Homo sapiens: one gene and its partner. The protein of the gene in region 1 purifies or fractionates together with the protein of each later gene. This does not show direct contact. Each region holds a gene or a part of one and is shown on either strand. Other genes may lie near its edges.

Region 1 (3,229 bases):
TTTAGTAAAGGACATTATGCCACCCATGGCTACAGCATCCTCCATCCCTAACTCACTCATCCTTGTCTGGGAACATGTCTCTATCTCCTGTCCTGGTCATCTAGCATAGAAAACAGCCCATGGGAATTATGTGGGATGCAGACTCCCTCTGCAGCACCTCTCCCCACTCTCCTCATTGTGTTGCTTAATGCTCAAGCTTTGTCACCATCCCTTAAGACAATGTAGGAAAAAAAACTCATTTACTGAGCACCTACTGTGTACCAGGATCTTTGCATATATGAGCTCCTCTAATCCTCACAGCAACTCTACAAAATTGGCACTATTAGTCTTTATTTTATGGAGGCAGGAACTAAGGCTGAGAGAAGCCAAATGGCTTACTCAAGGTCGCACAGATCCAATGTTCCAATTTAAAGCTGTGACACTTCACAGTTTTTGCTCTTTCTGTTATCCCACACTTGGTTTTCCAACCTGAATATGTGTGTGTGTGTGTGTGTGTGTGTGTGTGTAACTCTTCTTTATTCCCTAGCACTCTTTTCTGCAAATTTTTTTTCTCTCTGAGGACTGAGGCTCACACACATGTGCACGTGCACGTACACACACACCCACCAAGTCATCAGCATCTTTCTTTTATTTATTGTACTGGAGGAGCAGGAAATTACACAAGCCTATTAAAGGCTAAGCAAATTCCAAGTAAATTGCATAAATGGGATTTTTTTAAAGGACACAAAATAACTCTAAAACAATCTATCCATTTCAGAACATCATCAGATACCTGGGGACTGCGCATGAAGAGATGTGCTCAGCAGCATCTTATACAAATTATCCAGACTCAAGCCTTTTCCTCTCCTATCCAGCCTCATCTCCTGGACCCACAAACCAAAAGAGAGTGCCTGGGAATGAGAGAGCAAAAGAGAGACAGACAGACAGGGAGGGCTTTGATGGAAACCAAGACATCAGGAGGTCTCTGCCTCTGATTCAGGGTTATTTGAATCAAGGGAACTCATTTGGCCTCAAGCACTTAATCATTTTATTCCTCTTTCTGGTTTTATTTTGAGACATTAAGAGGAAAGAAGCATTATGGGGATTGAAGAGGGCTTTTTCTCTTTCTAGCTGCTGCTTCTGGAGTCCCTTACCCAATGCCCAGTGCGTATGTTGGGCCAGATGGCTTGGACTCTTGGCAGCCAATTCAGCTGCTCAAGAACATGGTTGTGCTTAACTTCATCAGCTTGACTCTGCTTCAGTTCACCATGGAGTAGAAGCATGATACCCATCAGTTTAATTAGTTTAATGAGGGCTGAGGGAACTGGTCCACATTTTGAGTTTGTTGCACAGAACAAATTGGTTTGCCTTTCTCCCTCCTTGATCATTTAAGCATTCAAGAGGCTGCTCTCAATCATTTCCGAAAGAGGTTTTCACTCCCTTCTGTAAGGAGTTAGGCACTGTCCAGGGTACCAACATGACTGGGAGTTCAGGAAGTCAGTTCTTCAAGAGGTGCTTTTCTGAACAATGAGGACTCAGAGTACACTGACTAAACATTAAACCCACTAGAAGACTGGACCCTCTACTGTAAGGGTTCCTGATCCAATATAAGGCAATGTTTAAGCTTTTTACCTAAAGCATCGTCTCCAAAGTCAGGTGCACAGGAGATCTTTTGAGATTTGGGAATATAATGTTAGGATTTCTGTGTATGATTATTTACCTTCTTTTAAAGTTCTACTCTTTGTTTATGATGTGTATACTATCTGCATGAGGGAGCATGCTCATATTTCTTCTAAGAGGGGCATGTGATCTGTTAAGTTTGGACATCATAGACCTACAGGTACAAAGAACACATCGCTCTGGTTCCCTGGAATTGAGGAGTCACGTGAACAGGTTGGAAGGACAGATCACAAACTGCTGCTGCTGCTGCTGCTGCCGCTGCTGATAGTTTTAGAGTCTAGGTGTCTGAGCCAAGCACTAAGCCTATTGTGGGGAAGGGACATCCACCCTTCCCCATCACAGACCCCAGAGAAATAACATACTCCCACGCAGAAGAGAGATAGGCTGGGCTTGGATATTTTGTACACAATGCTGAGCTGAGCATGGGGAAGGGGCACATATAAGAGGATGAATGAATGCACTCCAACCTGAAAAGGTGTCAGGGGTTTCTCCTGACTCTACTCCATGAAAAGAGGTGCTTATGCATCAAAAAGCTCTCCAGAGTAAGCATTCGGATCTTCCTGAGACCGAGTCACCACCTTGAACTGGCGCCGGAGAAAACCGCCATAGCGCTTCTGGTTGTCCCACTTGAGCTTGGGACGAATGCGCCGCAAGAAGCCCCCATAGCGTTTGTACAGGTCCTCATGGCCCATGCTATCCCCGTCCCCCTCCCCAGCCACCTCTGAGCTCCTCTTGGGGTATTTGCGCAAAAAGCCCCCATAGCGTTTGACCTGCTCCTTGGGGTCCTCCTCAGCGAGATAGAGTGTGCCAGTCTCCATGGCACCATCGTTCAGCTGGGCATCCCTCATCAGCTCAGACTCTGCTCCCTCCCTAAACCCGTCAGAGAGACCCCTGAGCTTCTCCTCCAGGCTCTTGCTCAGAGTGTTCTCCTTTGTTGAGATACTTGGGAGAAACTTGCTTTTCTCCAGCTCCTTCAGGAATGACCCAGAGAGCTTGGCCAGCTCACTGTAGGGCCCTTCCCCAACCGACTTGCTCCCCAAGTCCTCCTTGTCATTGAGCCCAAGGGTGGAGGGGGTGAAAAAAGACAGAAAGCTCTGGCATCTCTCCCATTCCTCAGAGGGCAGCAGGGCAGCCTGGCATTGCAGGGAGCAAATCTGCAAAAGACCCAAAAAGACCACAGTGGCAAATGATCAAAACACATGCACTGGTCTGCCCCAGGCTCCCCTGTCCAGTGTCTGAGAAAACCAAAATGAACGCCACTGCTAAGCCCTGGGCTACCCATGTTCATACTACTGGTGGTGCATAAAGGTAGGGGACTTTGTGCCTGTGAGAAAGAGAAGACAGACCTGGAGAGGTGAAATGGCTTTAGACCCAGGACACATGGCTGCAGGTGGCAATTGCCAGAATTGGAAGTAAGATCTTCCCGTAGTGTTCTGCGTGCTCACCTTTCCCCCTCCACGTCTGACTCCCAGACAGGAAACCCCATCTCCACTAAAAATACAAATTCTCTCCCAGGCTTCTGCAGGTGTGAAGCACACTGCTAACTCTTGGTAAAGTGGGACAGAGAAGT
Region 2 (3,829 bases), on another chromosome or scaffold:
CAGTGGCGCCATCTCAGATCACTGCAACCTCCACCTTCTGGGTTCAAGCGATTCTCCTGCCTCAGCCTCTGAGTAGCTGGGACTACAGGCGCCCATCACCATGCCTGGCTAATTTTTGTATTTTTTAGTAGAGACAGGGTTTCACCATATTGGCCAGGCTGGTCTTGAACTCCTGACCTTGTGATCTGCCTGCCTCGGCCTCCCAAAGTGCTGGGATTACAGGCGTGAGCCATCGCGAGATTATTCATAGAGTTTCTGTGTATTTGTATACGGGTTTTTGTGTGGACATGTTTTCATTTTTTAAAGCAGATAGCAGGAGTAGAATTGTTGGGTCAGTGGTAAATGTTTATTAAGAAGCTGACAGTTTTCTAGAGTGGTTGTACATTTTGCATTCCTACTAGCAGTGTATGAGAGTTCCAGTTGCTCCTCAAACCATCAGCACTTAGTATCATATTTTATTTTAGTCATTTTAAGTGTGCAGAGATATCATGGTTTTAATTTGCATTTCTGTAATGGCTACTGCTGTTGATCCCCTTCAATGTACTGATTTGCCATCTCTATACCTCTTTGGTGATATGTCTGTTAAAGTCTTTTGTCCATTTTTTAATTGGGTTGTTTTCTTACTATTTGATTTAGAGAGTCCTTCATATATTCAGGACGCTAGTCATTTGCCACATGAGAAATCTGTCAATTCTTTCTTTTATGAGCCTTGCTTTTGGTGCATGTTTAGGAACATTTTACCTAATCCCAGAAAATGATTTTTCCACTATGTTTTCTTCTAAAAGTTTACAGCTTTACCTTTTACATTTAGATCTATGATCCATTTAGAGTTAAAATTTTGTGTGAGGTGTGTGGTTTAGATCAAGGGTCCCTCTTTTGCCTATCTATGTCCAATTGCTGCAACACCATTTACTGTAAAGATGTAACCTTTTCCATTGAACTGCCTTTGCACCTATGTAAAAAATTAATTGGCCTATATTTCTATGAATCTATTCCTGGACTCTCTCTTCTGCTCCAAAGATCTACATGCCTTTTGCTCACTGATTACTGTAGTTTAGAGTAAGTCTTAAGATTAGGTAGTGTGATTCACTGAGCTTTCTTCTTTTTCAAATTGTTTTGGCTACTTTAGTGTTTTTGTATTTCCATATAAATTTTAGGATCAGTCTGTCTTTATCTACAAAATTGTCCTTTTGGGACTGTGATTGGAACTGCCTTAAGTCTGCAGATCAATTTGAGGATGGTTAACATCTTTAATCTGTTAGTCTTCTAATCTACATATTTACTTAGGTCTCCTTTGATTTATTATATCACTTTTTTCTACTTTTTAGTGCATGTGGATATTGTACGTGTTTTGGTAGAGTAGTACTTAAAAAAAACTGTTGTAAATGGTATTTTAAAACTTTCAGTTCCCCCATTGTTCATTGCTTGTATATAAAAATAAAATTGTTACGTACTGACCTTGTATCCTGTGACTTTGCTAAACTCACTTATTAGTTCTGGGAGGGTTGTTTCGTTTTGTTTGATACGTTCCTTAGGATTTTCTATACAATCACATTGTCATCTACAAGCAGGCCCAGTTTTACTTCTTTTTTCCCCCAACTACATGCACTTTTTTTCTCTTGTTTTACTGCACTGCCTAGGAATTCTTCTATGATCATAAATTGGAATAGTGAGGGTGAACATTCTTGCCTCATTTCCAGTTTTGGGGGAAAAGCATTTAGTCTTTCATCATTAAGTATGATGTTAGATTTTTAAAAATACTCTCTATAAAGTTGAGTAAATTCCTTTGTATTCCCAGTTTGCTGAAAGTTTCTATCATAAACAGATGCTGAATTTTGTCAAATGCCAAAGCATCAATTGATATGATCATGTGATTTTTTTAATGTTCATGCAGTTTTTGCTGTTAGTTTGGCAGATTATAATAATTTATTTTTAATTATCGAGTTATAGACATGAATCAGGCTTGCATTTGTGGGATAAACCCTACTTGATTATGCTGTATGATTATTTTTACATACTGCCAGATTCTATTCGGTAATACTTTGCTGGTGGTTTTTGCATCTATATTGGTCTATGGTTTGTTCTTGTCTGGTTTTGGATTAGGATGATTCTGGCCTCATAAAATGAGTTGACAAGTGTTTCCTCCTTCTCTATTTCTGGAATAGATATGTAAAATTGGTGTTACTTCTTCTCTAACTGTTTAGTAGAATTTACCAGTAATACCATCTGGGCCTGAAGATTTCTTTTTTCAGCAGCTTTTTAACTTTGAATTCAACTTCTAACAATAGTTGTAGAACTATTCAGGTTATCTACTTCATCTTCGGTGAGTTTTGATAGTTCATGGGATTTGAGGAATTGGTCTACTTCATCTAAATTGTTAACTTTATGTGCTTTGTACACATACTAGAGCGTGTGGGTCCCAAGTCCTAGATCTGGAATGGAGGAGACTCTACTTCAGCCTTGGCTCCAGACCCCATTCTCCAATCCATGTTTTCCCAGAGAGCTCTGCATTGTGGCTTACAGACAGCCTACACAGACTAAGAAAATAAGTATGTCTGATATCCTCTGCTTCTAACAAGGATGGAATCGATATATTTTTCTCTATTCCTTCTGTTAAGTACAACTAATAACCCTGGGCATTATCTATAAAACAAACATAAGAAGACTCTGAAAGGTAGAGAAAAGGCAGACTATTTAGGGACTTCAGGTCCAAAAGAATAACCTAGTGGTGTGTTTCCTAGGTTTTCTTTTTGCCTCATATATCTCAGCTGCTGAGGTTCTTCCCGGCAGCTGAAGAATCTAGTAACCTGGAAATGTCAGTGAGCACAGACCAAAACAAAACAAAAACATAAAGCACCCCAACAAAAGTATAATCTCTCTAACCAAAGGATCAGGAAAGATGCAGCCTAGCAAGCCAAAAATCTTTTAGAGAATAACCACTTTACTCCAGCCAAACACCACAGAAAAAACATTGGCCCCCACCACTCCTCACACCAGCAAAGGCAGGATGGGGAGCGTAGGCTTCCACCCTGGCAAGCACTGTAATGAGGTGCCCCAGCTCCCCTGCCAGGAAGGTATCAGACAGTGCCAAGTAAAAACCTGAGGCTTTCCTCCCCACTGGCCAGTAATAAGTCCCCCCAACCCATCTTATGGGTTGTTAGTGCAGTCCAAATGGGATGCCTGGACTTTCATCCCACCTGGCAGTATGAGGGCATCATCCTCTTCAGGTACTGATGGAAGCTGGGAGGGGAACCTGGACTTCTCTCTCTGCCTAGCAGTAATGAGGTGATGCCACTCCTTTCTCTGACAGAATGGTGTCAAAGAAAGCCAAGAAGGTTTAAAAAGGTCCAGAGTCTCACAGTATAAAACTGTTCAGGTTTCAATTTTATAAATCACCCATAATACCAAAAACCTGGAACAATTCAAAATTAATTTTTAAAAAATAAAGAGACACCGTGATATAGTTTGGATGCTTGTCTCCTCCAAATCGCATATTGAAACATGAAGGTGGAACCTAGTGGGAGGGTCATGGGGGAATATCCCTCATAAATGGTTTTATGCCTTCTCTTCAGTAATGAGTTCACATGAGATCTGATTGTTTAAAAGAGTCTGGGATGTCCCCCCTTATCTCTCGTTCCCTCTGTTGCCACGTGATGTGCTGGCTCCCCCTTTACCTTCCACTATGATTGTAAGCTTCCTGAGGTCTCCCCAGAAATAGACATTGGCATTAGGCTTGTACAGCCTGCAGAACCATGGGCCAAACAAAACCTCTTTTCTTTATAAATCACCCAGTCTCAGGTATTCCTTAATAGCACTATAAAATGGACTA

The links.
Region 2: the proteins of PDYN (region 1) and ACAD11 purify together in Homo sapiens (affinity purification with mass spectrometry; 3 studies listed by BioGRID and IntAct, with this or other methods). This does not show direct contact.

The regions. Positions count from the first base shown.
Region 1 is NC_000020.11:1,978,146-1,981,374, forward strand, and holds the end of PDYN (proenkephalin-B preproprotein), read right to left. Parts: intron 2,814-3,229; coding exon 2,178-2,813; 3' UTR 614-2,177; downstream 1-613.
Region 2 is NC_000003.12:132,562,159-132,565,987, forward strand, and holds part of ACAD11 (acyl-CoA dehydrogenase family member 11), read right to left. Parts: intron 1-3,829. UniProt on the Homo sapiens protein: Acyl-CoA dehydrogenase, that exhibits maximal activity towards saturated C22-CoA.